2 linked regions of the Homo sapiens genome follow. The protein of the gene in region 2 purifies or fractionates together with the protein of the main gene of each other region. This does not show direct contact. Each region holds a gene or a part of one and is shown on either strand. Other genes may lie near its edges.

Region 1 (7,640 bases), on a different chromosome or scaffold from region 2:
TAAGTGGGAAACAAGTATCATAGTAAGTTAATGGCCAATTTCCAGACACAAGTATTTCAAAAAGTACAACTATAGTTTCATTTCAGTTTTGGAAATATGATTGTATTAACAAGAAAAACCAGTGTAAGATTTCTGTTCAATCATAACACTAGGTACTCACTTCTGTATTTCTTAAGATAAAAATAACCTACAAATGTATTAAATCACTTAATCACATTTATATGATCAAAACTGTTCTGATCATAAACACACACTCTCCTTTTTCTCCTGCGTACATACCTGTCCTCTATACTGCGGTAAATAAAAAGCATCTGCCCATCTTGGGAACCTTTCATCGAGGTAAAGTCTATGGTAATTTGTTACAGAAGCCCTAACTGACTAACCCTAGTCAGCTGGCTCTACCTCCCTCCCTCTGTATGTTAGGAATTGTTCTACTGTAAGTGGAAGGAAATCCAACTCTAACCGGCTTAAGAAAAACATGGACTGCAGTACTTCACAAACCAAAAACTACACCTTCAGGCAAGTTTTGATCCAGAGATTCAGAAAGTTATCAGGTCTCCGGCTCCATTTCTCTGCCATCCTCCATCTTCTGGGAGTTGTTCTGACCTGAGGTGAATTCCTTACAGCAGCAACGCTAACTCTTAACAGTTCTAGGCATTATGGCCTCGCCACACAGAAAAGAAGGCAACACATGTCCTTCTAAACGCCCACAGAGGAAAGGGATCTCCGACAAAAGTCCTGAGATTCACTCTGATTGAGTCCATTAAAATCAATCATAAACCCATTTCAAAACAATCAGCACGGCCAGAAACTGGAATGCCCTGAGGGCTTATCCTAGGTCAAGCATAAACCCAGAAGCTGGAGATTGTTGGGAAGGGACAAAAAGAGGCCATTATAACCTTACAACCTCACCCCCTTCCTTCCATTACACCCCTCACAAGTTATGTTCCAACAACAGGCACCTACATTCAGTTCTCCAGGTGCTGTGGGTTGTACTGTGTTCCCCAAAAAGATATGTCAAAGTCCTAACCCTGGGTCCCTGTGAATGTGACCTTATTTGGAAACAGGGTCTTGGCAGATGCAACAAAGTTACGATGATGTCATACTCGTTCATCCACTATGACTGGTACCCTTAAGAGAAAAGACAGAGACACAAAGGGAGGGAGAGTATCACATGAGATTGAAGGGACGGAGGCAGAGGCTGAAGTGATGCATCTACAAGCCAAAATGCCAAGGACTGCTGGCAACTCCAGAAGCGAAGAGAAAGGCATGGAACAGATCCTCCCTGAGAGTCTTCAGAGAGATCGTGGCCCTGCCAGTACCTTGATTGCAGGCTTCTAGTCCCCAGAACTATGAAAGAATAAATTTCTGTTGTTTTATGCCATGAGTTTGTGGCACTTCACTGTAACAGCCCTTGGAAATTAATACACTAAGTATGATAATCCATAATTCTTTGCCTTTGCACATCAACTCTTCATTCCTTCTGGAATGTCTTTCTCCCCCAGATGGTCTACTCACACTAAACCTCTCAGACCTGCCCAAATGTCCTCTCTTCTGTGATGTCTTCCACCAGAACCCCCAAAAGAGTTAAGTCAATCACATCTTAGTCCAGCACCACATATTGCCTGTATTTTTATTATGAAATTCTAATTGCTGTGTACGTAGCTGTCTTCCCTTCATAGTTATAACTTCTCTTAGGGGAAAGCAAGGCCTGATTCTTACACACCTTCATATCCTCAAGGAAGGGCACAGTACCTAACACACAATATTCAGCAGATATTTATGAAGTGAATTAGCAGATGACTCATTTCAAAAGAAGATAATAGGGGTCAGGTGCAGTGGCTCATGCCTGTAATCCCAGCACTTTGGGAGGTCAAGACGAGATGATCTCTTGGGGACAGGAGTTCCAGATTGGCCTGGGCAACATAGTGAGACCTCATCTCTACAAAAAATTTAAAAATTGGCTGGGCACACTGGCCTGTGATCCCAGCCACTTGGGAGGCTGAGGTGGCAGGATCACTTGAGCCCAGGAGCACTGCCCTCCAGCCTAGATGACAGAATAAGACCTTGTCTCTCAAAAAAAAAAAAAAAAAAAAGGGTATGAATTATAGATTATAGAGAACTGAAGGTGGGCCTTGGTAAGTAGAGATGAAAAGAAAGAATGGGGGAGCAGTGAGGAGGGAGGTGCTGAATTTAGCAAACACAGAAAAACTACGAAGTAGAAAGATTTGGTTAGGAAAAAAAGGGATGTGAAAGGAATGGGATCCTTCTGCTGAGGATCATTTTAGAGGTAATAAAAGAAGCAAAATAAGAGACACATGTTTTTGTTTTTTATTACACTTTAAGTTCTGGGATATATGTGCAGAACGTGCAGATTTGTTACACAGACATACACGTGCCACAGTGGTTTACTGCACCCATCAACCCATACTCTACATTAGCTATTTCTCCTAATGCTATCCCTCCCCTATCCCCCTACCCACCGAAAGCCCCAGTGTGTGATGTTCCCCTCCCTGCTCCCACTTACGAGTGAGAACATGCGGTGTTTGGTTTTCTGTTCCTGTGTTAGTTTGCTAAGAATGATGGTTTCCAGCTTCATCCATGTCCCTGCAAAGAACATGAACTCACCATTTTTTATGGCTGCACAGTATTCCACGGTGTATATGTGCCACATTTTCTTTATCCAGTCTATCACTGATGGGCTGGATAGCCCATCAGTGGTTGGTTCCAAGTCTTTGCTATTGTGAATAGTGCTGCAATAAACATACGTGTGCATAGAGACACATGTTTTTTAGAAGACTGATATGACAAAGTGTGAAGCAGACTCTGCAGGTGTAAGAAAACAGTAAAAGTGCAACAGAAGCAGGTCAGCAATGAGGTGAAGGGTTAGGTACATTAGAATGGCAGCAGAAGAAATGGAAAGAAACAAATTTATACAGTGTGAGAGCAGAAAAAAACAAACAGGTAGAAAGAGCCAAAGATTACTGCTAAGTTTTGACCTTTGGTTAGCTAAATTTGGATTTAGCTAAAACAAATAAGGAAGTACAAAGAAAAAGACTATTTTTTTCAATGAGGATAGAAGTTTGGTGTTATACATGATTCAGTATGAGGTGACAATAAAAGATGCCCACCAAACAGTGGATGACAGAGAAGTTCAGGAGCAATATAAGGACAGAAGACATATATGGCAGTCATGTGGGTAAAGACGACTTTTTTAAAAGTCATAAGAAGTAAATTACAGAATTTTATTCCTTCATTCAACAGATATTTACTGCTCACTATGCTCCAGGCCCCTGCCCTCATGGAACTTACATTGCACTGGGGAAAGCAGATCAGCCTAAACTGGACTTGTGAACTATGCTCCAGGCCCCTGCCCTCATGGAACTTACATTGTACTGGGGAAAGCAGATCAGCCTAAACTGGACTTGTGAACTATGCTCCAGGCCCCTGCCCTCATGGAACTTACATTGCACTGGGGAAAGCAGATCAGCCTAAACTGGACTTGTGAACTATGCTCCAGGCCCCTGCCCTCATGGAACTTACATTGCACTGGGGAAAACAGATCAGCCTAAACTGGACTTGTGAACTATGCTCCAGGCCCCTGCCCTCATGGAACTTACATTGCACTGGGGAAAGCAGATCAGCCTAAACTGGACTTGTGAACTATGCTCCAGGCCCCTGCCCTCATGGAACTTACATTGCACTGGGGAAAACAGATCAGCCTAAACTGGACTTGTGAACTATGCTCCAGGCCCCTGCCCTCATGGAACTTACATTGCACTGGGGAAAACAGATCAGCCTAAACTGGACTTGTGAACTATGCTCTGGGCCCCTGCCCTCATGGAACTTACATTGCACTGGGGAAAGCAGATCAGCCTAAACTGGACTTGTGAACTATGCTCCAGGCCCCTGCCCTCATGGAACTTACATTGCACTGGGGAAAGCAGATCAGCCTAAACTGGACTTGTGAACTATGCTCCAGGCCCCTGCCCTCATGGAACTTACATTGCACTGGGGAAAGCAGATCAGCCTAAACTGGACTTGTGAACATAAATTTAGGGCTTGAGGTTGACATCACTTAGTAATTACTATAAGAAAAAAGTTTTAACTTTTCACTTCTTCACATTTTGTTTTCAAGAATTTTCTTTCTTTCTTTCGAGACAGAGTTTTGCTTTTGTTGTCCAGGCTGGAGTGCAATGGCACAATCTCGGCTCACTGCAACCTCTGCCTCCTGGATTTGAGCGATTCTCCTGCCTCAGCCTCCTGAGTAGCTGGGATTACAGGCGCTCGCCACCATGCCTGGCTAATTTTTTGAATTTTTAGTGGAGACGGGGTTTCACCATGTTGGTCAGGCTAGTCTCGAACTCCTGACCTCAGGCGATCCGCCCGCCTCAGCCTCCCAAAGTGCTGGGATTACAGGCGTGAGCCACTGCGCCCAGGCAAGAATTTTCATTTCATTAGTTAAAAAGGTATTTATGTCCTCAGATCGTCAGCCAGAGAGACTGAAGTGAATTTAAGATTTTTAAAATGTTAGCTTTCCTATTGTAAAAATCTATTTTCCTTCCTTTATTTCTCAAAATGTTTGTTGGAATTAGGTCAGTCCTTCAAAGAACGTCCATAAAGAGTGACTGGACTCAGAAAAAAATGAGACGCCAAATGGTATAATAAAAAGAACACAGGTTTGGGCATTAGACAACCCTGAGTTCAAATCTCAATTTTGCACAACTTCTGTGACCTTGGACAAGTTATTCAGTACATCCAAGTTTACTCATCTGTGAAATGGGAATAACTTCACTCTAAGGACTAAAAGGGAGTTATTTCTAATAGGCAGTTGGCACTATATACATATTTTTTGTTTTGCTTTGTTTTTTTGTGACAAGGGTCTCGCTTTGTTGCCCAGGATGGAATGCAGTGGCATGATTATGGCTCACTGCAGCCTCAACCTCCTGGGCTCAAGCCATCCTCCTGCATCAGCCTCCCATGTAGCTGGGACCACAGGCACATGCCAACACACCCAGCTAACTTTCTTTTTTTTGGTAGTGAGGAGCTCTCACTTTGTTGCCCAGGTTGGTCTCAAACTCCTGGGCTCAAGTGATTCTTCTGCCTCTGCCTCCCAAAGTGTTGGGATTACAGGTGTGAGCTACTACACCCACCCACTATTATTACTGTATGTGCTGGGCACAAAACAGATGTCTGATAAGTGCTTAGTTCCTTTCTTTTTTTTTCTACAGAAGGTACATCTTAACATTATCAGGCTCAATCCAATTCACCAGATTATTCTATTCAATTCTCCCAAACATTTTCTACAGCAGGAACTTAAAAGAATTGAATGAATATTAAATTCAAAAATGAGCTTAATTTATCCTATGGGCATATTTATCCTTCGAAGAAAAATTACACTGGTGACCTTACAAGTAGAAAAAAATGATCACTGAATTATGAAGATTCACATAAGAATGAACGAAAGTGGTACTGCCTTAGAAATCACACACCAAAGATTCTATAGGTATTTTTATTAAACTGACATCCTTTAACTTATCCTTTAAAATCAGTCATTTCTATGTCATCTTTTATTTAGAAAAAATGTTACTAACTACAATAATTCAATAATCTAAATTTTATATAACACCCTCAGAGTTGTCCTGAGGATTAAATAATACAATGTACATGAAAATGCTCTGTGGCACATAGTCTGCACTCAGTGATAACCTTAGGGAAATCCACTCCTCGTTAGCCTACGTTCCCTTCAATTAATGAAAAAACCCTATAACGGCAATTATAACACAGGATTTACAGGACTAAAAAGCTCAAAAAACACTCCAACTTGATGCCATTCTAAATCAGAAAGGTATTCATTTAATGTCTTTTAATAACAAAGAGGTTTGTAAGTTCAATCAAGATACAAGCCACTGCAATCAAAACCAACATTTCACTCTTGCCCCCAAAAGAATACTTGGACTAAATTTTTTTTTTTTTTTTTTTTTTTGAGATGGAGTCTCACACCCTCGCCTGGTCTGGAGTGCAATGGCGCAATCTCGGCTCTCTGCAACCTCCGCTTCCCGGGTTCAAGCAATTCTCCTGCCTCAGCCTCCCGAGTAGCTGGGATCACAGGCGCCTGCCACCATGCCCAGGTAATTTTTTGTATTTTTAGTAGAGACGGGGATTCACTATGTTGGCCAGGCTGGTCTCAACTCCTAACCTCTTGATCTGCCCGCCTCAGCCTCCCAAAGTGCTGGGATTACAGGCGTGAGTCACCGCGCTTGGCCTCGACTAAAATTTTATTGAGTTTTTGTTGTTGTTGTTGTTGTTTTGAGATGGACTCTCGCTCTGTCACCCAGGCTGGAGTGCAGTGGTGCGATCTCGGCTCACTGCAAGCTCTGCCTCCCGGGTTCACGCCATTCTCCTGCCTCAGCCTCCCGAGTAGCTGGGACTACAGGTGCCCGCCACCACGCCCGGCTAATTTTTTGTATTTTTAGTGGAGACGGGGTTTCACCAAGTTAGCCAGGATGGTCTCGATCTCCTGACCTCGTGATACACCGCCTCGGCCTCCCAAAGTGCTGGGATTACAGGTGTTAGCCACCACGCCTGGCCTACTGAGTTTTTTTTAAAAGACCAGAGTCATAAGTTCCTCCTACTTTCATTTTTAAAAATGCAAAATCCCAAAGCCCACAAAATATAATGGTATCATCAGGACCAAAGTCATAATTGTCTACCCAGGAAACAGCACTGACATCACCTAGAATCAGCTCAAAGGGAATGTCCACAATAAGCAGGGGAGTCCCTTCACTCACCTGTGACACTATTTGAGACAACCAGTGTCAGGACTGCCTGTTCCCTGCAACAAGTAGCTCTTATCCAATCCTCTGGGCTTTCCATGTGGACTCTCAGAGAGAGCTCCCTGGCAATCTCCCTCATAGGTCGATGACTCCAAACTTAACATCTGCCAGGTGTGTACTCTGAGAGCACCCCAAACTCAGCATGCATGCAATTAAATGTCTAACACCTGCTCCTGTGTCCCTGTGTCTGTTAATGGTATCACTGTCCTCTCAACCACCCAAGACAGGATCTAGTTTTCTTTCCCTCACCATCCCCCACCTTTCCAAGAGCAAACCAGTTTACACGGAAGACTTGTCCATTTCACCTCTACAAGCTCTCATTACCACTGCTCTGACCCATGCCAACAGATCCCACCTAGCTGCCCCCTATCTCTCATGCCCAAAGTGAGTGTACCTACTCTGAACATTACAGATTGATCTTGCTATGAAGTCCCCTTCCCACACCGCTGGTCCCCACTGCCTACCACAGTGTCCCAGGTTTTCAGAACTTGAAGGATCCTCGTCTGACTCAACCATCCATTCACCTGACCTTGGAAGCTTCTCAAATGGAAAATGCCCTGGCCTCACCTTCAAGGCCATTTGTATTCTGGCTCCAATCTAAAAGCCTATAATGTCATGAAAATAGGCGTGAACTACGCCATTTCACAGCTCTTGGGCTAAAGGTCAAAATTCTCAATCCAACCCACAGATCTCCACTTGGCCTGGCTTCCCGCCTTTCTCTCCAGTCTTGCCAAGCTCCCCTTTGCTCTCTCTGCTCCTGCCACCTGGCCTTCCATCCGCTTCAACCCCAAGCCTCTGTACCTG
Region 2 (8,280 bases):
CATTTCTAGTTGCTAGAAGTTTGTTCCTTAGCAACGCTGATGTGACACAAAAATCCTGTCTGTCTCCCCAGGAGCAAACCTCTCCCTAACCTTAGGAGCTTAGAAACAAGGTGTTCTTAAGGTCTAGAGAGGAGGGCTTATCTTTGTGTGTCTGTGAACCATGTTTTCTTCTTATTTATTTTCTTTCTTTCTTTCTTTCTTTTTTTTGAGATGGAGTCTCGCTCTGTCGCCCAGGCTGGAGTGCAGTGGATCAATCTCGGTTCACTGCAACCTCCACCTCCTGGGTTCAAGTGATTTTTCTGCCTCAGCCTCCCGAGTAGCTGGGATTACAGGTGCCCACTACCATGCCTGACTAATTTTTTTTTTTTTTTTTGTGAGACGGAGTTTCGCTCTTGTTGCCCAGCCTGGAGTGCAATGGCTCGATCTCGGGTCACTGCAACCTCCGCCTCTCGGGTTCAGGCAATTCTCCTGCCTCAGCCTCCTGAGTAGCTGGGATTACAGGCATGCACCACCACACTTGGCTAATTTTTGCATTTTTAGTAGAGACAGGGTTTCATCATGTTGGTCAGGCTGGTCACAAATACCTGACTTCAGGTGATCCACCCGCTCTGGGCTGCCAAAGTGCTGGGATTACAGGTGTGAGCCACCGCGCCCAGCCTGTATGTTTTTTTTAGTAGAGACGGGGTTTCACCATGTTGGCCAGGCCAGTCTTGAATTCCTGAGCTCAAGTGATCTGCCTGCCTTGGCCTCCCAATCACGCTGGGATTACAGGTGTAAGTCACCATGCCTGGCTATAAAATAGGGTTTTTTTTTTTTCTAGCAACAAGGCCCCAGGAAGACCAGTTAAGCTGACCTTTGGTAACACCCAGATCCTCCCCCGGATGCACTTCCGAAATTCACAACTGCCCACTAAGCATGGTTGATAATAACTGGCTTCTCCTCAGGACTAAAGATAGATATTTGAGACAGGATCTCACTCTGTCACTCAGGCTGGAGTCCAGTGGCACAATCACAGCTCACTGCAGCCTCGACCTCCAGGGCTCAAGTGATCCACCAGCTTCAGCCTCCAAAGTGCTGGGATTATAGGTGTGACCACCGTGCCGGCCAGGCCCAAGGATACATATATATATATATATTTTTTTTTTTGAGATGGAGTTTTGCTCTTATCACCCAGGCTGGAATGTAATGGCGTAATCTCAACTCACTGCAACCTCCATCTTCCGGATTCAAGCAATTCTCCTGCCTCAGCCTCCCTAGTAGCTGGGATTACAGGCGCCCACCACCACACCCAGCTAATTTTTGTATTTTTAGTAGAGATGGCGTTTCACCATGTTGTCCAGGCTGGTCTGGAACTCCTGACCTCAGGTGATCTGCCTGCCTTGGCCTCCCAAAGTGCTGGGATTACAGACGTGAGCCACCGTGCCAGCCAGGCCCAAGAATATTTGACAGAGCAATAGGTTCATCCTAAGTAAGGAGAGCCTAGAGGCCCAGAACCCACCTCTTGGCTTGGTTAAGGAGGAACTCTTTAGCAATGATGTGAAATTGGCTGGTTAAGCTCTCATCTAGCTCCAGAGGCCATTTGTCCCCCTCCTATTTTAGGGGCACGATCCCCAGCGCTTGGGCCCGCCATGCCTCACCTGTACCATGCCCTTGGTGCCGCTCACGGAGGCCGTGTTGGAGAGCTGCACGGTGATGCTGCAGGTGAAGCTGCCATGGACCTCCCCTGGGTACTGCAGGAGCACCGTGACAGTGTCATCCACACCTGGAGGGAAGTCCTGGGTCAGGGCAGGGTCTCTCAGGGCAGAGTCTCTGAGACTGCACAGGCCCCAAATCCTGCCTGTGGAACCTTGGGCAAGAGACTTCACTTCTTGCATGGCAAGGCAAAAGAATGAAGTGCTGGCTGGTCGCGGTGGCTCACGCCTGTAATCCCAGCACTTTGGGAGGCTGAGGTGGGCAGATCGTGGGGTCATGAGATCAAGACCATCCTGGCTAACACGGTGAAACCCTGTCTCTACTAAAGATACAAAAAATTAGCCAGGCGTGGTGTAGTCCTGTCGTCCCAGCTACTCGGGAGGCTGAGGCAGGAGAATGGCGTGAACGTGGGAGGCGGAGCTTGAAGTGAGCCGAGATGGCACCACTGCACTCCAGCCTGGGCGACAGAGCGAGACTCCATCACACACACACACACACACACACACACACACACACACACACACGAAGTACAGTCTTGGCTGTGCACAGTGACTCACACCTATAATCTCAGCACTTTGGGAGGTGGAGGCAGGAGGATCCCTTGAGTCCAGGAGTTCAAGACCAGCCTGGGCAACATAGTGAGACCTTGTCTCTACAAAAAATAAAAAATTTAGTTGGGTGTGGTGGCTTGTGCCTGTGATCCTAGCTACTCAGGAGGCTGAGGTGGAGGATCCCTGGAGCCTGGGAGGTCAAGGTTGCAGTGAGCAATGATTGTGCCACTGCACTCAGCCTAAGTGACAGAGTGAGACCCCGTCTCAAAAAAAAAAAAAAAAAGCCGGTGGTTCATGCCTGTAATCCCCAGCACTTTGGGAGGCCAAATGTGTGTATTGCTTGAGCCCAGGAGGTCGAGACCAGCCTGGGCAACATGGGGAAACTCCATCTCTACAAAAAACAAACAAACATAGCCAGGCGTGGTGGCCCACATCTGTATGCCCAGCTACTTGGGGGTCTTACGGAGGAGAATCGCTTGAATTTAGGAGGTTGACGCTGCAGTGTGCCAAGATCACACCACTATATTCTACCCTGGGTGGCAAAGTGAGATACTATCTAAAAAAAAACAAAAATTACAGTCTATTTGCCCATCTCTGAAAACTGAGCTGGCCATGTAACTTGCTTTGGCCAATGGGCCAGTAGCAAATATGGTGTAATTAGAGGCCTGAAAAGTGCTTGCACATCAGGAATTCTCACACCACGATATGAATGGTATCTAGCCAGCTGGAGAGGCCAGGTGGAGGAGAATCAAGGCTTCCCAGACAGTTGCCTGCCACCTGTAAGATATAAATGAAGCCTACCAGACTGTCCAGTCCCAGCTGAACAGCCAACTGACTGCAGCTGCAGGAATAAGACCAGCAGAAGAACCATCAAGCAGAGCCCAGCCCCAATTTGCCAATGCACAGAATCACAAGCTAATAAATGATTGCTATTTGAAGTCACTAAGTTTTTTTTTTTTTTTGAGACAGGGTCTGGCTTGCCGGGGGCGGTGGCCACACCTGTAATCCCAGCTCTCGGGGAGGCAGAGGCGGGAGGATAGCTTGAGCCCAGGAGTTCGAGACCTGCCTGGGCAATATAGCGAGACTCTGTTCTCCACAAAAAGGAGACAGGGTCTGGCTCTGTTCCCCAGGCTGGAATGCAGTGGCACCATCTCAGTTCACTGCCACCTCTGCCTCCCAGGCTCAATTGATCCTCCCACCTCACCTTCCAGAGTAGCCGGACTATAGGTGCACACCACCACGCCCAACTAATTTTTTTTGCACTTTTCGTAGAGACAGGGTTTTACCATGTTGGCCAGGGTGGTCTTGAACTCCTGGCCTCAAGTGATCCGCGCACCTCAGCCTCCCAAAGTGCTGGGATTACAGGCGTGAGCCACCATGCCCAGCCTGAAGTCACTAAGTTTTGGGGTAGTGTTATGTTTTTTTTTTTTTGCGGCTGAATGTAACTTTAATGAAGCATGAACTGCCTCTTGCTCCTTGGGGTTAAAGGTCAAAGATGAAGGGCATCACATCTGGGTGGCTCAGGCACTCTTGGATACTTTCCAGCTGAGTGGAAGCCAAGGCAAGGGCCTCTTCTGCAAAGTGGGGCAGCTTTTTTTTTTTTTGAGATGGAGTCTCACTCTGTCGCCCAGGCTAGAGTACAGTGACGCCATCTCAGCTCACTGCAACCTCCGCCCCCTGGGTTCAAGTGATTCTCCTGCCTCAGCCTCCCAGATAGCTGGGATTACAGGTGCCTGCCGCAATGCCTAGCTAATTTTTGTATTTTTAGTAGAGATGGGGTTTCATCATATTGGCCAGGGTGGTCTCCAACTCCTGACCTCAGGTGATCTGGCCACCTCGGCCTCCCAAAGTGCTGGAATTACAGGCGTGAGCCACCACGCCTGGCCAAGTGGGGTAGTCTTTTTTGTAGCAAAGATTCACTGAGACAACTTCAAAAAATAATAATTTTATATTTATTAACTGCCATTTGCCTCAGCAGTTACTTCATTAACTCCCATGACAACCCTATTAGTGACACTTTACCAGTAAAGTAATTAAGATTCAGAGATGTTAAGTCTGCTGGCTAAGATCACACAGCAAAGTCCCAGGAGAGTGCCCACCTGCAGTCTTGACTCTGATCCTCTCTGGCTTCATGGAAAGTTGTTCCTCTAGGTGTCTGATCTAATTCTCATTGACTTGGAGACTTGTCCTCAGTTCAGTGCTCCCAGAGAGACAGAATCATTCCCATCACCATGAAATATTCCAGGATAGATGGTACCTGTTTCATGACGCCTTCCCACGACAGAAATCTTCTCTGGCTTCTGCCCTCCAAAGACCATGGAGGTGAACTGGACACAGTAGATGCCGATGTCCAGCAGGGCCCCCCCAGCCTGGGCCCGGTCTACGGCCCGGGGAACGTGGATGAGATTCTTCCCAAATTCTGCCCGAGCCACCCGGAGGTCTCCTAGAGTTCCCTGGGCCAAAACAGACCTCAGAGCCTCGGAGGCAGGAAAGAAGCGGGTCCAGATGGCCTGCAGACCACAAGGAAAGGAGTTAACCAACCAGTTCTAATCCCTTCTGGGGTCCCAATCATAGGGGGATACCCACTGCAACCCAGTCTCCAAACACAGCCCATCAGTCCCCAGGTTGTATCCCTCTTGCTCCTGACCCTCTTGACTTTTCTTCTTTTTCTTTTTTTTTTGAATAGAGATAGGGTCTCACTATGTCGCCCAGGCTGGTCTCGAACTCCTGGGCTCAAGCAGTCCTCCCACCTCAGCCTCCCAAAGTGCTGAGATTACAGGCATGAGCCACCGTGCCCTATTGACTTTTGTTCTTTTTCATCTGGACCATTGCCCCAGTCTCCCCATGTTATGGGATGAATTGTGTCTCTCTCCCTCTCGCTTCTGCCCTGCCAAACACAATTCACGTGTTGAAGCCTTAACTCCCTAGTACCTCTGAAAGCAACTGTTGTGGCCACAGGGTTTTCAGAGAGATAATTATGTTAAAATAAGGTCAAGGCTGGGCACGGTGGCTCACGCCTGTAATCCCAGCACTTTGCGAGTCCACAGTGGGCAGATCACGAGGTCAGGAGTTCGAGACCAGCCTAGCCAAGAGACCAGCCTGGCCAACACGGTGAAACCCCGTCTCTATTAAAAATACAAAAAATTTTAGCTGGGCGTGATGGCGCACGCCTGTAGTCCCAGCTACTCGGGAAGCTGAGGCAGGAGAATTGCTTGAACCCGGGAGGTGGAGGTTGCAGTGAGCTGAAGATCGCACCGTTGCACTCCAGCCTGGGCGACAGAGCGAGACTCCAACTCAAAAAAAAAAAAAAAAATGAGGTCATTAGGGTGGGCCCTTATCCAATATGACAATATGACTGGTGTCCTTATAAGAAGAGATTAGATGTAGGTATAGAGCATGCAGGCCAGTGGGTTTAAGAGTTACGTGTGCATCTCCTAGTGAAACTCCTTAAAGGAGGCATATAGATACAGAAGGTAGAAATAAAACTCTTTGTTCATAGATGACATCATCTATGTAGAAAAATGCAAAATGACAACAACAAAAAAAAACTCCTGGAACTGGGGGCTGGGCGCTGTGGCTCATGCCTGTAACCCCAGCGCTTTGGGAGGCCAAGGCGGGCGGATCACCTGAGGTCAGAAGTTCCAGACCAGCCTGGACAACATAGCAAAACCCCGTCTCTACTACAAATACAAAAATTAGCCGGGCGTGGTGGTGCATGCCTGTAATCTCAGCTACTCGGGAGGCTGAGGCAGGAGAATCACTTAAAGCCGGGCAGCGGAGGTTGCAGTGAGCCGAGATCACGCCATTGCACTCCAGCCTGGCGACAGAGCAAGACTCTGTCTCAAAAACAACAACAATGACAACAAAAACCAGAGTTCTACCTCTTGGAGCACCCAGTCTAGAGAGACAGAGAACAGGCAACCAAGGGATGAACAAAGGAATACCAAGGACACAAATAAAATGGAGGGTCCTTCACGCAGGACAGCCGGGACGGTGACACCCTGAGGAGGTGACATTCCAGGGGAGACGGAAGCTCCGTGGACTAGGCAAAGAGCCCAGAGAAAGAATGTCACGGGAGAGCCGGGAGAATGGGCAAAGGTCCCAAGGCTGCACTCCAGCAATTTCTTTTTTTTTTTTTTTTTTTTTTAAAGACAGTCTCGCTCTTGTCGTCCAGGCTGGAGTGCAGTGTCGGGATCTTAGCTCACTGCAACCTCCGCCTCCCGGGTTCACGCCATTCTCCTGCCTCAGCCTCCCGAGTAGCTGGGACTACAGGCGCCCGCCACCACGCCCGGCTAATTTTTTGTATTTTTAGTAGAGGCGGGGTTTCACTGTGTTAGACAGGATGGTCTCGATCTCCTGACGTCGTGATCCGCCCGCCTCTGCCTCTCGAAGTGCTGGGATTACAGGCGTGAGCCACCGCGCCCGGCCAATTTTTGTACTTTTTTAGTAGAGACGGAGTTTCGCCATGTTGGCCAGGCTGGTCTTGAACTCCTGACCTCAGGTGATCTGCCCGCCTCGGCCTCCCAAAGTGCTGGGATTACAGGCGTGAGCCACCGCATCTGGCCCACACCAGCAATTTCTAAAAATGCTGACGCAAGAGTGTCAGGGCTCACGGGGGAAGGGCGGGGCAGGACGGATGTGGCCGAGGTCCGCCCGGGCTCGGAGCAGTCGAGAGGAGCGTGAACACAGGCCTGAGGGCACTGGGGAGCCGGGGGCAGGCTCTGCGCAGGCTCTGAGCCTGGGTGTTGTGGCAGTAGGCTACTGGTGCCCCCAAAGATATCCACGACCTGATGATCCCCGGAGTCTGTGAATGTGTGACTTTACAAGGCTAAGGGGTCCTGGCGGATAGGATTACATGAAAGACCTTGAGGTAGGGGCCGGGCGCGGTGGCTCACGCCTGTAATCCCAGCACTTTGGGAGGCCGCGGCAGGAGGATCACTTGCAGTCATGAGTTTGAGACCAGCCTGGCCAACATGGTGAAACCCCGTCTCTACTAAAAATACAAAAATTAGCTGGGCATGGTGGCGGGCGCCTGTAGTCCCAGCTACTTGGGAGGCTGAGGCAGGAGAATCGCTTTAACCTGGGAGGTGGAGGTTGCAGTGAGCCGAGATCGCGCCACTGCACTGCAGGTTTGTAGGGGGTTCCTTGGTCCTTTCAACCTCTACCTGGAACCCCACCCAAACTAAGCCATTGCCATTCTATGCCACTTTCACTCTTGGCATCTTTTTCTTGTTTTTTTTTTTGTTTGTTTTTTTTCTTGTTTGAGACGGAGTCTCACTGTGTTGCCCAGGCTGGAGTGCAGTGGCGCAATCTTGGCTGACTGCAAGCTCCGCCTCCCGGGTTCACGCCATTCTCCTGCCTCAGCCTCCCAAGTAGCTGGGACTACAGGCGCCCGCCACCACGCCCAGCTAATTTTTTGTATTTTTAGAAGAGATGGGGTTTCACCATGTTAGCCAGGACGGTCTCGATCTCCTGACCCCGTGCTCCGCCCGCCTCGGCCTCCCAAAGTGCTGGGATTACAGGCATGAGCCACCGCGCCCGGCCGGCATCTTTTTCTTAAAGACTGACAAAAGATCCAAGCAATTTCAGTAAGCCTTGCCGTGTTTGCTAAGGGCCAAAAGCAATGGCTTTCACGGTAATAGATGCTGCCAAGGAGATTCAGATACATCCTGGCAAATGCACTGACCCCGTCCGCGCACTGGCAACCATATTTAATGGCAAGCACTTTTACGCTGGATATTGGAAGGGCTCCTCTGCCCTCACCTCCATAAGGAAGAGGGCTCGGGATCGGGCCTCCGCGACCATCTCGCGAACTTCCGCCGCGTTCACGCCCGTGGGCTTCTCGCACAGAACGGCCTTGCCCGCCGCCAAGCACAGCATCACCGCCGCCTTGTGCTGGGGGTGCTGGGTGCCAATGTAGGCCACCTCTAGGGTGGGAGTAGGTCAAGAGGTCAGCAGCCCCGCCCACCCAGACAGCCGAGCTCCGCCCACAACTTCGAGGCCCCGCCCTAGCACCCAGGGACCAGGTGGTCGGTCA

The links. Proteins that work in one complex are often made in the same cells at the same time.
Region 1: the proteins of DHDH (region 2) and ATRN purify together in Homo sapiens (co-immunoprecipitation; 2 studies listed by BioGRID and IntAct, with this or other methods). This does not show direct contact.

Annotation. Positions count from the first base shown.
Region 1 is NC_000020.11:3,473,378-3,481,017, reverse strand, and holds part of ATRN (attractin isoform 1 preproprotein), read right to left. Parts: intron 1-7,640. UniProt on the Homo sapiens protein: Involved in the initial immune cell clustering during inflammatory response and may regulate chemotactic activity of chemokines. May play a role in melanocortin signaling pathways that regulate energy homeostasis and hair color.
Region 2 is NC_000019.10:48,935,922-48,944,201, reverse strand, and holds part of DHDH (trans-1,2-dihydrobenzene-1,2-diol dehydrogenase), read right to left. Parts: intron 8,171-8,280; coding exon 8,007-8,170; intron 4,754-8,006; coding exon 4,501-4,753; intron 1,763-4,500; coding exon 1,638-1,762; intron 1-1,637.